Regions from separate parts of the Homo sapiens genome. Here region 2 is linked to region 1. The links come from fine-mapping of genetic effects on gene expression. A gene starts in region 1. The other region holds a variant in brackets. All regions are shown on one strand. Distances are between the middles of the regions.

Region 1 (10,427 bases):
AGGGATGGGAGGATGAACACAGTAGCCCTGAATTTGTTCACGATGTTTTCCACACTTCAGGCATTAGCTGGCATTTATCTTTAGCCATGAGGCGTGCACGTCCACCTCGCTCTACCTTCAGCACGTTAAGTAAATGGGACTCTGCTGCCAAGTTTAAGCCTAGAAAGAGAGCTGGGCACTGGTCTACTGAGTGGTCTGGGTAGCTCTTGGGAGAGAGGCAGTGATAAAGAGTGGGCCTCAGGGCCATGCCTCCACCCTATCCCACCCACCCCACTGTGGGCCCTGGGGCCTGCTGTCCCAGCGTCTTGGGCTGTGATGTGTGGAGTCCCTACAAGCTGGCTGGCCAGGGCTCCTTCCTCCCAGTGCCCTCAGCCCCTGGTGTTGGGAATGGATGGGCACTGCTCCCTGCACCGCCCGTTCTGAGTGTGTATGTTTGGGAGGAGGGGTGTCTGGAAGTGCAGAGAGGGGTCCACAGCCTGTGAGTCACTGGGAACTTCCTGAAAGCGCACCAGGCCTCTCTCCCCACTCCTGATGAGCCACCACCACCATGCAGGTATTTATGGCTGGTTTTCACGCCCCAGCAGGTGGTGTGAACACACTGTGTCTGAGTGTAAACGCCCATGTTTTGATTTAAGAGTGTGGGGAGCCCTCCTATCGTCTGGGGCCTTCTAGATCTCTCCGCCTCTCGGGCTGCTGGCCTGAGCCACATTGTTTATCCCATAGAGGAGAGCCCACCCAGTGGCCCTTTATCCAACCCTAAACCGCTCGTCACCAGGGCCAGGCCTGGCCGCTGGTCCTGGCTCCACCAGTGCAACTTACCTCACCCCTCTTAGCCCCAGTTTTCTCGTCTGTCAAATGGGCACAGCAGCCACTTCTGTGTTTGCTGGAGGGATTGAGGGAGCCAGCCAGTGCTGTGTCCCTCAGCTTCCGAAGTGGCCAGTGAGAGGCTGACCCGGGCTCAGCCTGCCCCTGGGCTTAGCTCTGCTCTGGGGCCCATTTCCTGTCATATTCTGGGTCCACATCCTGGGCTCTGTCTTGCTCTCCTGGTATTGCTAGCACCTCCACCAATGCCATCCTTATTTCCCAGGTGACGGAAATACCACAGGGTGGGCTCAGAAGAAGCAGGTAGATGCTCAAGCCTGTTTGGGGACCCCTGGAACCAGGGTACCCCTCCTCGACCACCTCCCGTGCAGGCTCAGGGCAGCCATGTTGAGGGGGTTGTGCTTCCAGGATGGCCTGGGCAGAGAAGGGATAGAGAGAGAGGGCACAGCCCGGGTACAGCTGTGGCTCCTCCGGCACAGCTGGGCAACCCTGAATGGGGGCTTTTGCCTGTGGACTGGTGAAGGAGCTGCAGAAAAGTTCTGCTCGGGACACCTACCCTGACACACACGACAGAGACACCACACACATGTTCAACATGACACATACCACAGAGTTCGACAACACAACACAGCTACGTATCCTTCCTAAACTCCCCAGCGTAGATACATTCGCAAAGCAGATGCCGCTGCCCCAGCTAGATTCACGGTCACAAGGACTCTCCCCTGGAGGGCTCCTGAGTGCCGGGCCCTGCCCCGTGGCTCTGATGGATTCTCCCAGCGTGTCCTCACCACTCTTTGGAGCAGGTGCCACATTCAGGAATGAGGGCGGAGCGGGGAGGGACTTGGCCAAGTGCTCTGCCCAGAGGAGTCCACATTTCAGGAGGTCCTTGAGCCATTGCACCCCCACCCCCATTTCCCTGTTTACAGCTGTCACCCCCTGCCCTTTCCCATGCTGGAGCAGGAAGAGGTGGGAATGAAAAGTGTCCTCCCTGGAGGTGGCACCAGACTCGGGAAGGAAGCTTTCCCTTGGGTTTGCTGCCCCTGGGCCAGGGCTGTGGGTGCTGCCCTCTGGGGGTTAAGCCCTGAACCATGGTGCTGGGGTGGCCACCTGCAGTACCCCCACCTCCATGCCACCCCTGTGATGAGGGAGTTTCTCAGACACTTTGCCCATAACCAAAGGCATGGCATGCCCGAGAATGGCAGGGAAGGGGGTGGCAGGCCAAGGAGCCAGGAGAGCCCCTGCGGAAGCTCTGTAGGCCTGAGGCTCCCAGCTTTCCCTCCCGCCATCCAACCCCGATGCCCCATGGGCCTCTCAGCCCCTCCCTGTAACCGGACCATTGCTGGTGTCCCAGCAGCCCTTCTCAAGGTCTGACCTAGACGGGGAGGGGAGAGGGCCCTTCCCACTGCGGACCTCCCTACCCTGAGGTTTGCCTCTGTCCCCAGTCCTGCCCCAGGGCCCTGGGTCTCCCCTGATCCTGTGGACAGCCCTGCTCTCCTGCCTAGTCCAGCCCACACAGCCGTCCTGCTCCCAGCACCATCCAGGGGACCTGAAAGACATCTCCATCCCCTATCTGACCAGGCTGCCCTGACTGATACTGTAAGTGCCAGCCCCAGCTGCCCTCACCCTGATAAGCGGGTGACAGACAGGCAGGTGTCCAGGGCACGGGGAGTTCTTGGGCAGAAAGAGAGCTCCTGGGAATGCCACACCACCACACCACAGTGGCTGTCAGAGAGTGCGCTGTGTGTGAGTCTCTGTCTCCTCCCAGAGCTAAGTCCAGTGGTGTGGGGAGAGGCACCAAGCCCAGGCTCCACAAGCTTCCTTGCTGACTCGCTGCATGGCCTCAGGCAGCTAAGGCACCTCTCTGTGCATCTGCAAAGAGGCCTCAGCGGGATAGACCAAGGCTGCACAAGTGAGATAAGGGGTGCAGAGAGGACCCCTGGGAGAAGAGGCTCAAAGCGTATTTGATAAGAATTTTCGGGATTCCCTCTTTTCCTCTGGGAGAAGGGAAGCACTTGCAGAAGTAATGCCCTGCTGGGGGATTTCCGGACCCGGAGATGAACCTGTCTGCTGCCCAAGCCCAAGTGCCGGTCCCAGCCTTGCTCCCTGTGTGGTATGGAGCAGACTATGGGGGCTCTGAAGGGCTTCCTAGGGCCAGGTTGGGGAGAGGGGCACCTTCCCTAGGCCCAGACTGCCCTCCTGGCCTTCGTGTGGCCCTTGGCAGAGCTGAGCACTCCATGGGCACCTAAGTGTCCAAATTAGGCTGCCTGGAAGGGAACATCTCAGAGACTGCAGACCCCCAGCCTGAGGGGAAGTGGCCTTCCAAGCTCTTCACATAGAGGAGCCAAAATGCCAACCTTCCCAGCTGTTCTTTCTATCCTCCTTTCTCCCTCTCCCCACACCATGGGGCCTCTCCCTGTTGGCAGCTCTGACTCGAGAGGCCTGCCTCTGTTTCCCTCCTCCACTCCCTGGGGGTGGGGGTCCCCCATGCATGGTGAAGCCTAGGATGAACCAAGCCCTGGCAACTGGACACCTTCCCCCTCCGCAGCTGTCTCCCCTCCCACTGCTGTCCTGGACTCAGGTCTTAATGGAGCGTAAACAGCCAGGCAGACGGAAGCCTCATTAGGCCTGATCTAATTAGGAGCCCCTGAGATATGGGGGTGGAAGGCAGAGGTGGAGGAGCGCCCCATTTATGAGGGCCTACTGTCCACAAGAAATGTCACACGCATATGCTCTTAGAACCCTTCCCACAACCCTCCAAGATAGGCATGAGTATCCCCAGGTGGCATGAATGGAAAGCGGCTCAGAGAGGGCAGGTGACTTACCCAAGACCACTCCGCCAACAGGTGGCTTCCCTGGGATGTGCACCCTGAGTGTCTGACCCCAGTGTCTAGTTCTTCCCAGCATCCCAGCTGGCCTCAGCCTATCAGGCTGGGCAGGACCTCTGACATCCTCTGTCGCAGGTTTGTCCAGCTGCTATCTGAACCCACAGTGCTGGGACAGCCACAGCCCCGTTTCTGGCTCTCTGTGTCTCTGGGCCTCTTCTCTCTCCCAGCACCACCTGACTCCACAGTGGGTCAAGATGGTGGGAGACGGGGTGTGGGGCCAGTCAGGCTCTCAGCCTCCTACCACGCCCACTCCTCATCTGTCTCCTTCTGTAATTGGGGAGGGTGTAGGGGGAGCCCATGCAGTGCCAAGAGGCCGGCCGCCCCTTCGTTAGTCTTAGCTAACAAGCTGTTTATGGGTGCGACATGACACCTGCTTTCTTCTTTATAACTTCAATAATTTATAGGCATATTAGTGGACAAGCAGCCGCCCTGGGTCCCAGCCAGACGGGCCGGGGTGATGCAGCTGGGTGCCTCTGCTGATATTTACTCTCTCCCACCATCAATTATTAAGGAGCCCTCCTTCGTTTTTGCACATAATTACATGCACCGTTATGGTTCAAACTCCCCTGCTCTTAATCTCTCTGGAGAGGGACCCAGCCTACCCAACAGGGCTGAGATGGCATGGGGACCCATCAGCTGGAGAAGAAGGCAGGCAGCCACCCTACCTGGGCGAGAGGTGGTGGCAGCCTCAGCCTCGCACCCCACTCTCAGCTGAGCTGGCACCTCCTTGGCCAGCAGCGGCCTTCCTCAGGGCTGGCTGTCTCTCCCCTCCATCCCAGGGCCCAGCCTTTGCACCTGCTGTTCTGCCTGGAGCACCAGCCTCTACCTTCCGTGTACCTGACTGATCCCAACTCATCCTTTGATTTCAGCTCAGCCATTGCTTCCTTCTGGATGTCTGACCTGCCTGCTGTGTGTGTGCAGCCCCACCCCCACTTCTCCCACCTCAGCCTGGATCACACTAGGTTGAGTCTTGCCTGCCAGACCATGGGCTTTGGAGCCTAGAGAAAACTGTGGCAAATGTTTGGCATTTGATGAATGAATGAATGAATGAATGAATGAATGAATGAGGAGATGAATGGATGGATGCCTCCACCTGTCTCACCACCAATGAGCCCACTGAAGCATTCGCCTTCACCCTCCTCCCCCAGGAAGCCTCTCCTGTTTGCTCCACCTCCTCTGGACTCCTCCAGACTCTCCTGGTCTGTGCTGAGATTCCCCAGTGGGCACCAAGGCCTGGTCTCCGTCTATGTCCCCAACACCAAACAGAGGACAGGTCAGAATGGAGGGAGGGTACATCCTGACAATCTCAGCTGTCAGTGTGACCTGGGGAAGTTGCTCACCCTCCCTGATCCTGTTTCCTAACTGCTAAATGAGGATAATAACAGTCCCTACTTTACAGGGTGTGATTGAGGCTTATATAATTTGTAAAAGCACCTAGTATGTGGCCTAGCATGCCAGAGGTGCTCAAGTAATATCCTTAACCTCACCCGTTGTCTGTCCGTGATTTGAGCCCATGTGAAATTGAACCATACTGAATTACGTTGGATTGAATTGTCTTATTTACGCCTTCTCTCGTCCACACTTCCTTGTTTTTAGTCTCCCCTGCCATGTAGCTGGGACCAGGCTTGGCTCACAGGGTCTCTGCAAATATTCCAGGTTGATTAATCAAGACTTTGCGAGTCTCTCAAGCCACACCTATCTAGGGAAAGGAGTGAGTGTCTCCCAAGTCACAGAAAAATAAACTGAGGCCAGGGAGATAATGTGGACTCCTCCAAGTTAATGACAGAGTGAGGAACCAAGTCCTGGCTTCCTGCTAGGCTGGAAAGCCCAGGAATATCTCCCTGGATTCTGTGTGCCTCAGTTTCCCCACTGTAAGATGAGATAGTAATAGAAGGGAGCCCATAGCGTTGCTGAGAGGATTGAGCGGGTTGCTGAGTGAGTGGATAACACACTTAGAACCACCGTGCTGCTCATGGTGTGGGGTTCAAAGTGTGGGGATCAGGATAGGCCTGACTCTGCCACCTCCCCTTCTCTCTCCCTAGAGGTGACAGTCCTCTGGAATTGGTGTTAATCACTGTCCTGCGTGTTTTAATACTTTTCCTATATTTGTAGGTATCCATATTCAGTTTATAGGGCTTGGGGCTTGTTTTTAAACTTGAGATAAATGGTATACCTTGTACATATGTTTTTTCCTCCACATCGTGTTTATGAGATCACCTATGCTGATGCAAGTAACTCCAACATAGCTGTTTTCACTGCTGCATAGTATTCCATTGTGCGAATGTACCGTGTTCTGTACATTCCTTTTCCCAATGATGGGCACTTAGGCCATTTCCTGTTTTTCGCTATAACAATCCTGCCATGCGCGCTCCTCTGCTTGCCCTCGTGTGCTCATGCCTCGGGGAACTGCTGGGTCGTAGGGTGTGCGTCTTTCCACCTTTACTGGATAACCACCAAGTTGCCGGGCCATTCCTTGCCCCCCTTGAGAGCAGACACTTTGCCTGCCTTATCTCAATACCCTCGCCACACTGGGAGAAAGGAGTTACTATACCCATTTTACAGATGGAGCATGAGTTTAATTATCTATTGCTGCATAACAAATCACTCCAAAACTTAGCTTAAAACAGCAAATATGTATTACCTCCCAGTTTCAGTAAGTTGGGAATCCAGGTGAGGCTTAGCTGGGTACCTCTAGCTCAGGGCCTCTCACAAGGCTCCCATCTAGACATCAGCCGGAGCTTCAGTCATCTCAAGGCTCAACTCAAAGAGGAGCTGTTTCCAAGCTCACTCAAGTGGCGATTGGAAGGTCCCAGGGCCTCATGGGGGGTTGACTAGAGACATCAGTTCCTTTCTATGTGGGCTTCTCGTAACATGGCAACTGGCCCTCCTCATAGCAAAAAGCAAGTGATCGAGAAAAGGTACCCAAGATGGAAACCACAGTTGTTTTGTAATCTAATCTCACAAGTGACATTGTGTCACTTCTGCCGTATTCTGTTCACTAAAAGTGGGTCCACTGATCCAGCCCACACTGAAGGGGAGGGGATTACACAAGCAGGGCAATACCAGAAGGCAGGGACCACTGGGAGTCCTCTTAGGGGCTGCCTATCACTGGGCAACTGAGACTCAGAGAGGTAAAGTGACTTGCCTAGGGTGACACAGGAGTCAGAGACAGAGTCAGAACTGGAACCCAAGACTGCCTGGCCCTGATGCTGGGCACCTTTCGAGCCACTATGCTGCCTTTGACTTAATAACAGGCTCCGACTTAAGTTAATAAACAAGTCTCCTGCACAACAGAACTTAAGGCAAGCGCTTAATGAATGGATTTGCTAATAGTGCTGCCTGTTTGCACACATTAGCTCAAATTCCCCCTGACATGATCCATGGGGACAGCCGAGCCAGGCTCTCAGGAGGAGCCTCTCTGCCAAGCACAGAGCCCAAGTTCCCATGGAGCCAGGGAGTGATCTTACATTTTCTATTTGTTTTTTTGTTTTTGCTCCTAATCTAATTTTTTTTAAAGGAGTGCACACTTCCTTGACTTCTTAAGAACAGCTAACTGCATCCCACAGTAACTCAAGGTCAGGAACACTGGGTGTTTTCCTGGGGGGAACTTCGGCGGGGGTAGTGCTGAGGGGCCCTTTACGGACTGGCCCCAGACCAATTTCTTGCTTCTCAGCCACTGTAGACACAGCAGCCAGGCCACCCAGTGCAGAAGGGCCGTGGCAGCACTGAGTGGGGGCCAGGCCCAGACCTCATTTCTCTGCCAGGGCTTCTGTCTTGAGTTCTCCAAGAGCCTTTGGGCTTCCCCGGATTCCCAGTGAGATTCCCAGTAGGGGAGGCTGCTGACTACGTTGCTTCTAGACAAGTGACCTGTCACTGGTGCTGAAACATTTCCTTGGAGGCATGGGTGCCCCATGGTGAGAGGGAGTAAGAAGTATGGATTCAAGAGTGTCCCTGCCCCCATGCCCTGGCCCTCCTCTCTAGGGGAATCTACTGGGCCTTCCTGATTAAGAGACTTCAGTCAGGTGTAATTTGTAGACATCAGACCCTCTGGAATCAGGGCTGTGGGCTGGCTGTGGAAACTGGAGGAGACAAGATGAATCCAAGCCCTCAGGGTGTTCCTGATTCTCAGGCGACAGAGAATGTGGTCCAGGTGTCTCCGAGTGGGAATGCTGAAAGGGACCTTAGGCTAGAGCCCTGACTTTAAAGAGAAGGGGTCAGGAGGCAGCCAGTGACCATGACAGTCAGTATGATCACCTAAAAATACCTGCATTTATCAAGCTCCTACTACATCAGCATCAGGTAGATACCAGCCACACGTTAAGCCATGAGACCCTCACACCACCCCGTGAAACCGACATTATCTTACAGAGGAGGAAACTGAGACTCAGGAAGGTGTCCAGGGACATACAGCCCCGCCCGAGGGGAAGGTGAGGTTCTCAGCAGGTTTTTGGAAGGAGGGGGACACACAGGGACCTGAACTGGAAGGGGAGAGGATTTGAGGGGCTGAGAAAGCTATCGATGACAAGACAAGCATGAAGTAAATGCCAGGGAAGAGGATGCCCCAGTTAACGGGGGTGGGCCTCCCACACACCCTTGCCCTTGAGTCTTGGCCTCAGCCTGCACCCACCATGGATGTTCCCTGGGAACCTGCATATCTCCACACCAACTTGGGCCAGCCACTGTGGGGAGAGAACCCCTCCAGGTGAGCCCCTGTGCCTTCCCCATGTTGGCTGCCCCATGCAGGATGTGGAGGATCCAGACTTGGGCAGCACTGGATGAGGGACTTTCCTTTAAGATACTCAGGCCTGACCCTTTGTGACATGCTTACATGGGAAGCTGGTGTCCCCAAGTCTGCTCTGACTCTTGAGGAGGGGGTCAGGAGGGGGCAGGAAGGCTCTATACCGAGCCACATCTCCAGGACCACCTCCAAGAAGGGACTGTCCCGCTAGCCCCCTCAGGTGCCTCCATCCCTGTCTGGCCTCCACAGTGCACCAGCGCAGGGCCTGACCTATGGATTTTCTGCCACTTCTCAATCCACTTCACTCTAGCCTAGTACTTCATTACACAGCGGCCTCAGCAACCCCATCATGGAGGGCTGTGGGTCTCTGTGGTGGCTTCTGGAGGCTACATGGCCCCCACCTTCTGGACTTCAGCCTTTTAGGGGATCAGGGTCGTCCAAGGAGCCCTGAGCTTAGAGACCCCCCCAGGGCAACCTCTCATTGCATAGCTGGGGAAACTTTGGCCCAGGGAGTGGCTGTGACCCCCTCAAGGTCACACAGCAAGTTAACAAGTTAACTTGTGGCATAAAGTAGAACACGGGGTCCACCTGAGCACCCAGCTCCACAGGGCCCCCCAGCTGGATGCTGGCTCCACCTCACTCCCCCAGCCCTGCTCCATGCCCAATGCCAGCTGCCCAACCCCCACTCACCTCCAAGGCTCCTGGTCTCCGTTTTTCTTGCTAATTAGAGGTCTCAGCAATGACTCTGCTGTCCCAGCCATTTTAGAGCCGTCATTAATTTCAAGTGCCTTCAGAAATAATCATCATCGTAAAACCCTGCGAGCTGCTGGGATGCCAGTGGATAGGACCAGCATAGAGCAGGCATGTAGGCAGGCCTGTGTGTGCCACCCTCTCCTTTCTGTGCCTGGGGGACCCTTGGTCCTTGCCCCAGCTCCACCTCCTGCCTCCTCAGCCTCTCAGAGTGAAAGGAGAGCAGGACTAACATTAGATACACACAGAGCTTCAAAGCCCAGCTCTAACTCGTGCACAGAGTGAACTTGAGCAAGTCACCAGCCCTCCCAGAGCCTCGGTCTTCTCATCTGTACAGTAGGAACAGCAATGCCAATCTTGCAGAGAGACAAAGATGTGAAGTGTGGCTGAGTCTGGCTTATAGTAAGGGCTGAATACATGGTGGAGGGCCTTCTCCCCTCCTCCTGTGTTCCCGGGCAAACCCATTCCAGCTTCTCCACTTTGCAGTGAGCAGTCAGGCTGGCTCCTTCCAGCCACTGGCTCCTGCTTTATTGGGACTTGCTGAGTTCTCAGCCTGCAGCCAGGGTCTGCTGTGTGCCCACCTATGAGACACGCAGTCTCAGATCTGCTCTTGGGAGCACCTAGTCTGAGGATAGAGGGAAAAGATTTGGGCCTTGCCTCTAATGTCATTTCAGTCTGGGGAGAGGAGACAGGAATAGAAGAGATGGGTCTTGGTTGGGTTTTGAAGCACAGGTAGAAATCAGGGAAAAGGCACGCCACCAGGGTGGTCCAGCAGGCACAAAGGCCTGGGGTGCGGGGAACATTCTTCAGCTGTAGCTCCTGGACATGATCCCCTGGTTGTGCCAGAGCACACTTGGACTAGGCCATCCCGGTGTGTCACATTCTCCATGGCCCTGGGACCCCTGAGAGGACTCTGCTGGGAACCACCCCACCCGACAGGAGAGGAGAGATGCCTGTTCCACAGCTCATGCAGAGGTAACTGGGTGGGGACCCAGTGACAGACCCCCTTTTCCTGGAGTCTCTAGGTGACAATGCCAGGGACCCGTACTCTCACCAGGCCCAAACTAGACCCTCAAAAAGGCCTATCCTCCAAGTTGTTCCCCCAAAGCTCCCCGTCGTTTCCATTGGAATAAAACAGGGAGAGCTGGGAGGGGTCATGTCTTTTGGAGACAAAGGGAAAGGGGAATGGCTTGGATGCCATTGACAGTGGAGAACCGAGGCCAAGGGGCTCT
Region 2 (10,427 bases), 240 kb before region 1:
TCCCTTGTGGGAATGGGAGGAGGTGAGGGTCTGTTATGTCTACTGAGAAGGCAGAGAGGGCCCTGGGGACGGGTGGGGTGCTGGCGGCAGGGAGCACTTCTGACTGCCGTGGAACCCGGTAAAGGAGAAGGGAAGGAGAACAGAGCAGGACTGGAGAGATGGGCAGACAGACAGAGAGACAGGGTAGGAAAGACAGACAGAAAGAGATGGAGGAACCACAGCCAGGGGTGGGAAAGGACAGAGAGATGGAGAGAGCGGGATGGGGGGATGGACTGAGAGATCGGGGGTGCTCTGCAGCCCGGGTGACCCTGCGCAGGGGCAGACAGAAGCCGTGAGGGGAGACTGAAGTGTGGCTTCCGTTCCATAGAGTCTTCATGGTGCTCCAGGCAGCGTGGTCAGAGTCCGGGTGGAGCCGGTGAGGAGGGAGGAAGCAGGCGTCTCTGTGGCCTCGCCCACCCCCAGCCTCCAGGGTCTAGGGGCTGGAGACCCTCCGTTCCCGGCAGTCTCCACGGGGAAGGCCCAAGGCCTATTGGAGGCAACTCAATGTTGTGGGGCAGAGCCCAGATTGACCTTGTCACCAAGATCCCCAAGGGCTGTCTTGGGCACGGCCGGGACCTTGAGGGACAGGTCTGGTCTCTGGCTTGCTATGGAGTGAGTTCCCTAGGCCTGGAGGGCTCACAAGCTAAGGCTATGGCCTGGACTCACACCTGCTGCCAGCCTCTACGCAGACCCCTCCCTTGGCTGCGCTTGTAGGGGCTGTGGGGTAACCGTAGCCTGGGGCATGTGTCATGGAGCCACAAGCAGTGACTCAGACAGTTAAAAAAGGAGCAGCTCTGAGTGGTGACTCAATTGGCTCTGGAGGGGCTGGGTGGGTCTGGCTGGTACAAGATGGGGTGGTCTGGGTTTATTTTTGGCAGGGCGGGGCTGGGGCCAGGGGGTGGAAGATGGGAACCGGGGGTGGAGAGGAGCCGCTGCTCTCATCCCGGGGGGAGCCCCAGGGCTCCATGCCAACTTAGGAAAGTGGCTTTCCAATGCCAGGGAGTCCTGGCAGGCTGGGCTGCTTCTCAGCCCCATTCCAGGCCTAGCCTGCCTTGCTGCTTGGCCCAGGACAAGCAGCTGGCTCTCTCTAGATAGAGGCAGAGGCCCCTGTCCTGTTCCCAAGAGGCTCAAGCTCAGAATTTAGAGCTGACCTAGGAGACTGAAGATTCCACCCAGAGGCCCAGATAGGGCCAGGGTCTCCCCAAGGCCACACAGCAGGGCCAGGTAGCCCAAGGGCTGTGGCACCATCAGCCAGCTGGCTCAGGTCTCTACAATATCTCACCGGCCCCAGGGCTGTCCACGGTTGGAAGGACAGCCCCTGTCTGAGTACCCACCCCTGGAGGGGCTCAGCCAGGCTCCAGGTGGGTGGCCAGAAACACATGGGCCCCACATGCCCAGAGATAGAATCTCGGCCAGGGGCAGCCACTTGGATTCTGTTAGCACATGTGGGTGGGGGGCCTGTCTGGGCCCTGTCCAGGGGTCTGTGGAGAAGAGTCACCTCTACGTGGGTGAAGGCAGTGGGGGCCTGCACAATGGGATCTTGCCCTGAGGGCTCAGGCACGGGCCGGCCCTTGTCCGGGGTCCCTCCAGTGTCCCAGCCCCAAGCTGCACACCCCACTCTGCAGTCACCTCAGTCACCTGCCCACACCTCCCCCTACTCTGAGCTCACATACACCCATCCCCCTGAGGGGTCCTAGCAGCCCAGAGCGGAGAGGGCTGTCCCCTCCCTCAGTCCGGATTTCTGCTCCTCGTGATGCAGCCACCACTGCTTATGTCATGAGTGGTGGTAACAGCCCCATGGTGGCCCTGGCAGGTGAGCTATCTTGCGTCCCTGGGCCCTGGCCTCCAGCCCCCACCTCCAGAGAGGGATTCGCGAGGGGTTGGTAGAGAGCAGGGAAAAGACAGGCTTCTAGGGTCCCTTGTCCCATAAAAGGTCCTGATACCTGCTCATTCTCTTCTCACTCACCTGCTCTGGGGACAGGGGGTTCCTGCTGTGCCCCGGCCCAGTGAGCCCCATCCTAGGGGCTGTTAGGCTTGGGAGAAACAGGCCCTGGGGAGGGCCAGGCAGGGGCTGTCCCTGCTTCTTCTAGCACTGGGAGAGGGGTGTGGGCCTCAGCCCAGTTAGCCACAGAGATGCAGACCCCCACCCCCTCCCACCTTCTGAAGGGTCCTGGGCTGGCAGGCAGCCGCTGGCTGATACCCTCTCCAGAGCCCACCTCTCCTTTTCCACGTCCCTTGGTCCCACACGGACTCACGGGGCCACCTCCTCTAGGCCTTTGCCTCGGAATCTTCCTGAAAGACTCCTAAGCAGAAGTCCCCATGTCACCAGGCCACTCCACCCTGGGAAGAAGATGCTAATAGCAGAGTGACTGCAGCCTCAGGAGCAGACGTCCACCGAGCATTGATTCCAGGCAAAGTGTCTTGCTTAATCCTCACACGTAATCCTCGACGTAAGAGGTCGAAATTATTTATCCCCATTTTAGAGAGGAGAAAACTGAGGCTCAGAAAAACAGTCACTTGCCCAAGGTCACGCATGGAGTGTTAGGGCTGGAATTCAACCTGAGCTCTCTAATGCCGTGTTTCACCACCATGTGCCTGGCCTCCTGCTTCCCTGTGTGGGTTCCCACAGCTCAGGACTCAGAGGAGGGAGAGATGGGGCCTGGGTCAGGGCTGAGGGGCAGGGGAGGGGCTCCCTCTTAGCTGCTCGCAGACTCCCAAAAAGGGTGATTTGCTCCTTCCTTGACCAGGATGGGAAGTAAGAGAGTGTGTGTGTGTGTGTGTGTGTGTGTGTGTGCACGCGCGCGCGCGCGTGTGTGTATCTGTGTCTGTGTCTGTGTGCGTATATGTGTGTCTGTGTGTGTATGTCTCTGTGTGTGTATCTGTGTGTGTCTGTGTGTGTATCTGTGTCTGTGTGCATATGTGTGTCTGTGTCTATGTGTGTCTGTGTGTGTATGTCTGTGTGTGTCTCTGTGTGTGTGCATGTGTGTCTGTGTGTATCTGTGTGTGTATGTGTGTGTCTGTGTCTCTGTGTGTGTCTGTGTGCGTGTGTGTGTGTGTCTGTGTGCACGTGTGTGTGTCTGTGTGTATGTCTGTGTGTGCGTATGTGTCTGTGTGTATGTCTGTGTGTCTGTGCGTATGTGTGTGTGTATGTCTGTCTGTGTGCGTATTTGTGTGTGTCTGTGTGCGTATGTGTGTGTCTCTGTGTGTGTGTTGTGTCTGTGTGTCTGTCTCTGTGTCTCTGTGTGTGTGTGTGTGTGTATGTGTGTGTGTGTCTGTGTCTCTGTGTGTGTCTGCATATGTGTGTGTCTGTGTATGTGTGTGTGTGTGTGTGTGTGTGTGTGTGTGTGTGTGTGTGTGTGGCTAGGCCTCAGGCCTGCCTGGCTGGCCTCCAGCTGCAGGAGAGCTGGTCTGGCCCCAGCCACTGTGCACAGGGAAGGGGCAGGGAGAAGTGGATGTCGTGGGAATCAGTGTCCTGGTCCCACTGGTATTTATAGCTGCCCCTCCCTGAAATGTGGGTGGGGGAAGGGGCTGCTCTTAGATGGGAACGGAAGTTCGTCTCCTCTCCCCAGCCCCCTCTGACTCCCCAGAGAGTGGACTGGCCCAGGCCAGAGGGCCTGCTCTGGGGGGGTTTTCCCTGGGGCTGCTGGCTCAGGGGAGGGACACTCCTTGCCTGCTGAGCAACACTGTGTGTGTGTGTGTGTGTGAGTGTGAGAGTATGTGAGTGTGAGTGTATGTGTGTGTATGTGTGTGTGAGTGTGTGTGAATGTGTATGTGTGAGTGTATGTGTGTGAATGTGTAAGTGTGTGTGTGCACACATACGCATGTGCACTTACTGGGTGTCAGGCTGAAGAAAGTCATGGACCAGGGACAGAGGCCAGCTGAGGGTAGGGGAAGAAAGGCCTGTAACCCCACAGAGATGGAGGGCAGGGCCCCAGGAGAGGGGCCATCCAGGTCATGGGTCTCAGAGCAATCTGTGGTTAGAACAGGCTCCTGGGGGTGGCGATACTGGAGCTGAGCCTTGGAGGATGGGGGAAAAGGGAAGGCCTGTTGCATGGAGCAGCTTGAGCAGAAGTGGAAGGGTGCCAGCGGTTATGGATTATTATCTGATGGCCTAGTTCTATCTGATCAGCCAGTCTGTGGGACACGGGATCACCTTGACCAGGGAGGATGATATATTTAGGGAGAGAAGGACATAGCACAACACAGTTGAGCATCCCTAATCTGAAAATTCAAAATCCAAATGTCCCTAAATCCAAAATTTTTGAGTGTCAATGGGATGCCACCAGTGGAAAATCTCACACATAAGAACTTTTTTTTTTTTTTAAGATGAACCCTCACTCACTCTGTCGCCCAGGCTGGAGTGCAGTGACATGATCTTAGCTCACTGCAACATCTGCCTCCCAGGTTCAAGCGATTCTCATGCGTCAGTCTCCTGAGTAGCTGGGATTACAGGCGTCACAAGCACACCCAGCTAATTTTTGTATTTTTAGTAGAGACAGGGTTTCACCGTGTTGGCCAGGCTGGTCTCGAACTCCTGAGCTCAGGTGACCTGCCTGCCTCAGCCTCCCAAAGTGCTGGGATTACAGGCAAGAACCACCGCGTCTGGCCTCCACACGTAAGAACGTAACATAAATTTCTCTCAGGCACAAAATTCTTTAAAAAAAATCTATAAAGTTACCTTCAGCCTATGTGTATAAGGTGTATATTAAACATAAATCAATCTCATGTTTAGATTTGGGTCCCATCTTCAAAATATCTCATTATATATAAGCGAATATTCCAAAAGCCAAAAAAAATTCAGAAATCTGAAACACTTCAGGTCCCCAACGTTTCAGATAAGGGACACTCAGCCAGTGTGGAGTGAGGGCCAGCAGGCAGCGGGCAGGAGTGGGAAGCTGGGGCAGGAGAGGCCACGCAGCCCCAGGCCTGCTGTGAGGAAGCTGGGACTGCCTTCTGCTCCCGGCCTCCAGGCTCCCAGACTTGGGGAAGGACATCTTCCAAGGACCCTTAGTACCAATCTTCATGGAACCCAATCTATAAACAGGTTTGTGGAGTGGCTCTGCATGAATTGGGGTGGGGCAGGCGTCCCATATTCCCAAGCTCAGCTGTCTCCAGGCCGGCTCAGCTGGAGAGCCCTGGGGTGCGCTGGAGCGCAGTCAGAAAATCCCTGGTTGGCTCAGTGATCTCTACACCCCTCTGGGGGCCAGGCTGTGAGCCCTACAATGGGGGAGACCCCTGAGCAAAGCAGGTGGGATGTGTGCTCCCGGGGAGCTGCTGGTCCTGAGGGTGAAGCTACCTCCCAAACCAGGGCCAAAGAGTAGGGAGCCCTCCCCCTAATCTCCTGAGGACTCACTGTGTGACTCTGAACAAGCAGGCTCCTCTGTCTGAGCCCGGGTTTCCCCAGGATCCATGGGGGGCTGGTCTGGGGTCAGGGGTTTCTGCAGTAAGTTCCGGGAAGGGAGGCAGCGTCACTGACACACCTCAACCTTAGGCCGCAGGAGAGCCACACACTGAAGTGTTGAAGCAGGAGCGATGGCTGGAGGCCTGGCTAACGCATGCATGCCAGGGCTGGCAGAGCCAGCGG[C/G]CTCCTCCACAGGCTGGGAGCCGGCCTGGGTGTGGGAAGGAGCTGAGCGAGAGGCAGGAATGCTCAACAGGACAGGCACTGTCCCTGATGGGGCCCACCCCTGCCACCAGGCCACCTTGACAGCAGCCCTACAGCTATCACCCTACATCAGAGACAAAAGTGGCTTCATTGGCAACCCTAGCTTTGGGGGGAGAGGGTTTTTTGAAGGGGATTTGCTTAGGCTGTGAGAAAGTGGGGAGGGTTTGGAAAGGGAGAGAACGCTGGCTGGTGGGGGATGGGGAGACAGAACAAACATCTGGAGTCCTCAGCGAGCTGTCTGTCCCTGCAGACCTCTCTCTTTCCCCTGCTGGGGCCCGAGCCCACTGGTGGGTGGTTGTCCACCTGGCTTGATGTAGGGAAGCTTGTTGCTGTTGGAGTGAGTGAGAATACCACGGCCTGTGTGCCCAAAGAGAGACCTGAGGCAGTCCCTGCTTTTCTCTGAGCCTCAGTTTCCTCATCTGTAAAATGGGAATGTTGGACAGGTATGGTGGCTCACACCTGTAATCCCAGCACTTTGGGAGGCCCAGGTGGGAGGCTTGCTTGAGCCGAGGAGTTCGAGACCAGCCTGGGCAACATCGTGAGACCTTGTCGCTACAAAAAATAATTACCCTGGTGTGGTGGCACATGCCTGAAGTCCCAGCTACTCAGAAGGCGGAGGTGGGGAGATCGCTTGAGCCTGGGAGGTTGAGGCTGCAGTGACTGTTTCCTGACCGGCAGGGCTGCTGTGGGGCTGCAGGACTAACAACATGGTTAGTGCACACCCTGGGACATGGGACACCCAGCTCGTACCTCTAGTGCAAGCACAGCAATAAGACAGCTTTGTCCTCTCCTGTTTGGAGTTACGGACCCTCCTGAGAAGTGGAGAGAGCTAGATACCCTTGCCCCATGGAGGAGCCAAGTACAAAATTGTTCATACAAATTCAGTTCATTTAAAAATTCCTCATACAAACTCAGTAGGAATGGTAAAACAGTAAATTTGAAACCTGTCTTAAGCTTGCAGCTGGAGGAAGAGTCTTAACTCTGGAATGCTCTATTGAACTGACATATGCTGGGGCGGAGGGCATGTTGGAGGCGAGAGGAGAGCTGGATGGGGCAGGAGTCCGGGAGAAAGGCGATGAAGGAGCAGAGGGACCAGGGAGGGGCCAATCTCTAGTCCCAGACCCACAAGCCCCTGTTCATTTTCTCCTGGCCTTGAATAGAAGACACAGCTCAGGGTGGCACCCCGTCCCCATCCTGTGCTCACTTCCTTCCTCGCAAGCGCCACTGGCCCAGATCTTTAAGGTAGGGGACTTGGAGACAGAGGCAGTAGCCATGCTCGTCCAGGTCTGTGAGAGTGGCCGTGTGCAAGTGTGTGTGCCCACATCTGTGTGCGCCAGTAAGTGTGGATGTCAGGGCTATTTCCAACTCCCCCTCCCCTGCCCACCCGTCCTGGGCAGCACTCCCAGTTCCCAGACACAGCCTATACACTTCCTCCGCGAGCTCCACACGCACCCCACTCCCCTCCTGCCATCATCGACAGCCGCCTGGCCCACCTGGCATGGCCCACCCCAGGCCCCCCAGGCGGGCAGCACTAAAAGGCCCTTCTTGTCCTGCCCGGGCGGGCAGGCGTAGGGAGGGAGGCTCCGTTACACTTGCTCTAGAACAGTTTTTCTCGAGTCCGGGTGGGCTGGGCCAAGGGCTCTGGCCCCTGGGCCCTGCCCTGCTCCGGAGGCCTGGGGTGGCACACAAGGTGCACACAAGGCTCAGTGCCTGTCCCGAGCACCATCGGTCCCCCCAAGCCATCCTCAGAGGCAGCAGGATCTACCCTGCTTCAATTTCTTGTACCTGGTGTCCCTGTGGCCCTGCTCACTAAGATACCCCCATCAGTTCTGAGTCCCCACTCAGGTAACACACAAGCCCTCCCTGCCAGGTACTCCCCCACCTGGGTCCCACTTCAACCCCTCACATTCTGCCTTTCAGTCAGCGATGCCAGGGAAGAAGTGTGGGAGCCACCACCCCTGCCTGCCCTGTGCTCACTGTGACCCCCCGACTAGAATGTCACCTCCTTCCTTCTCTGCCTGTCCTTCCAGTATCAGCTCAAATCCAATCTCCCCAATGCTTGGCTCTCTGCTGGGGCCTCCCATACAGCTCAGAAGGAGGTGGACACCGCATCTGTCACCCACACTGTCTCAGTGGCCCAAGCCTAGGCCCCGACGCAGGCTGGGAGCACCCTCGAAGCAGGGCTGGAGGCTCTTCCTGGGCTGCTGGGGTTCTTGGTGGAACTCAGAGTACTTTTCTTCCTCTCTGGGGCCTCAGTTTCCCTCTCTATACAAGTGGAAGATTGGCCCAGATGGCCTCTAGGTTGCTGACTGCCAGGCCCCCTGACCCGGATGCCTCAAATGTTGATGAGTAGAGGGAGAGCCTCCCAGCACGCCTCATTCGGATACGGGAGGACGAGGGCCTTTGCAGCCAGGGGCATCCGGGAGGGGTGGGAGGGACGCCTTCCTCAGGCAGGGGCTGCCCCTACTGCAGAAATCAGGGCAGGCAGCTGGACCAGGAGTGGTGACAGAGATGGGTTGCTGGACGGGAGCTCTCACAGCCCCTCCTCATTTCCGAGTCCTCCTAAAGGCAGGGGATGGTGTAACTTTATAAAACCCCACAGCACCATGCTGCTCTCTTGCCCTAAAACCCTTGTGGCATCTCCTTTGCCAACAGGGCATAAGGCCGTGGGCTTCATTTTGCCATTTAAGGCTTCTGTGCCCCAGCCCAGTGGTTCTCCCTGGCCTGTGCTCGAAATATGCCTCCCAGCCAGGCTGCTGGCCTTCCTGTCTCAACACCCCTCTGCTTACACCCACCTTGGTGCCTCTGAGTCAGCGCCCCTGCCTGGAGGACTGACTCCCTTCCCATCCACCAAGGCTTGGTTTGAGGCCCACCCTGTGTCCTGCCCCAGCTTGCCCCTGCTTTTCTCCCCTCTGTACTTTTCATCCAGATTTTTGCTGTTTGAGATTTAATTTGCCTTTCTGCCTCCTGAATGAGTCTCAGTTCAGCCTCTCAATTTCCCGTGCCCCTGCGAGCCTAGCACCATGCCTGCATGCTGTCAGGGCTAAGAAGGTATTTGAGAATGGCTCTCAGTTGAAGCCCAAGGAGGTGGGGGTACTGGAATCCCTCCTTGGCTGGAGGCTGGGGCCTGAATGAGCTGACCACCCTGGTCACCTTGGATGCTCCCTTCCCATCTCCCTGGCGGCCCAGCCCATCCCTCAGGCCCTGAGATCTTAGGGGATCTGGTCCCTGCAGGAACAGGGAGCCTGGGGATCCAGCCCTGATTCACCCCGCGGGGGTCCTCCCTTGACTCACTTCCCTTCTGGGAACCATGTGATGCCCTCTTTTAGAGCTGGCTTCTCCATCTGAAGGAGAGAAGGGTGTAGCCTGGGCCCTTGTGAAGGAGGCTCAGGCCCTGCCTTTGCTCCATGCTGCTCTTGGGAATGATCTCGAAGGTGTAGCTGAAGCACTGAATCACACATGGGTAGTGATGATGGATGGGCCCTAAGGCTGCAGTTCTTATGGCATAACTAGAGCTGCCTTCGCTGAAGGAAGAATGCTGTCATGTTGGGGTTTCTGGCATCGGGACAGAGAGGGGATATATCCCAGCACTTCTCTGAAAGCGAACTTCCATTCAGCCTCTGCTGGGTCAGGCATCAGTGCTGGGATGAGGAGGTGTGGCAGGGGGTGGTCCAGAGCTATCTGTAGGACAAGCCCCGCTGAGGGGCACCAGCTCTCCCTCTAGGAGGCTGAGAGTGGGTAGTGGGTGGGGGGTCCTGCCTGTCACCAACAGGAGGAGGGAGAGGAGAGAATGAAGAGGGGAGGTGGCAGATAGATGGATCTGCAAGGAAGCAAGGGGAGGAGAGAAGGGGCAGAGCTGGGGGGCAGCTGGAGGGGTGTGGGGGTGCTCCTCACAGGGGAGGGCAGGGTGGCTCCTTCCTCGTTTCCCACCTTGTAGCACTCCCCGTTCCTGGCCCAGGGCATCTGAAGCTGGAGGACCCACTTCTCACTGTCGCCGGGTCCCTTTGGACCCCAACATACTCACCCCAAACTTGCCTGGCAAACAAAGCTCGGACAGCATTGGGGTGGCCCCACTGGTGTCTCAGACAATCCAAACGGGCAAAGCCACGCCCTAGGCAATCCATGCCTAGGGCGCCTGCTCCCGCCCCTAACTGGACAGCCTTGGCTAGCTAGAAACCCCATAACCTGAGATAGCGGGGTCCCGTGTCCGCCCCAGGATTGAACCCCTGGCGACCCCAGCTAGTGGTGGGAGAAGCGCAGCCTGCTTGACTTCTGATCTGGGGGCCACTTCTGGGTCCTCCTGTCCCTTTTCCCTCCCTGAGGAACCCCTCTAGTTCTGCCAGGCTGGGTCAGGGTCTCAGGCCCCTCACTCATCCACGGATGCAAGTCTGGCCAACATAGCCAGGGTCAAAGCCAGGGCCAGGGCAGGGGCTGGAGGTGAGGGCTGTGGCGTGGACTGCATCCCGGCTGGCTGAGTGTCAGGACTTTCGAGGTGTGATGGTGACTGATCCATGCGGGGGTTATGAGTACTGGTCTTGAAACCAGAGAGACCTGGGTTCGAATCCCCGCTCTCCTACTTGGCTGTCAAACCTTGAACAAGTCACCTCACCTCTCTGTGGCAGTTTCCTCACTTGTAAAATTGGGTTGATGAGGATTAAATGCTTTAATGTACCTCAAGTGCCTAGCCCAGGACCTGGCATACAGTAGGTGCTCAATAAATGCTTAT

Evidence for each region.
Region 2: its variant is fine-mapped to the expression of LINGO1-AS1 in caudate (GTEx, PIP 0.99).

What each region holds. Positions count from the first base shown.
Region 1 is chr15:77,635,175-77,645,601 of GRCh38, reverse strand. LINGO1-AS1 (LINGO1 antisense RNA 1) reads right to left here and starts at 3,838. Exons shown (of 3, transcript NR_045123.1): 1 at 3,645-3,838. It also overlaps a transcript of LINGO1 not described here. RefSeq lists an enhancer at 1-26.
Region 2 is chr15:77,878,405-77,888,831 of GRCh38, reverse strand. It overlaps the pseudogene CSPG4P13. Among named protein-coding and RNA genes, the nearest start is that of TBC1D2B, 190 kb to the left of the region's middle. RefSeq lists enhancers at 396-1,138, 9,407-9,907. The variant C/G (reference allele first, on the strand shown) is at 5,624.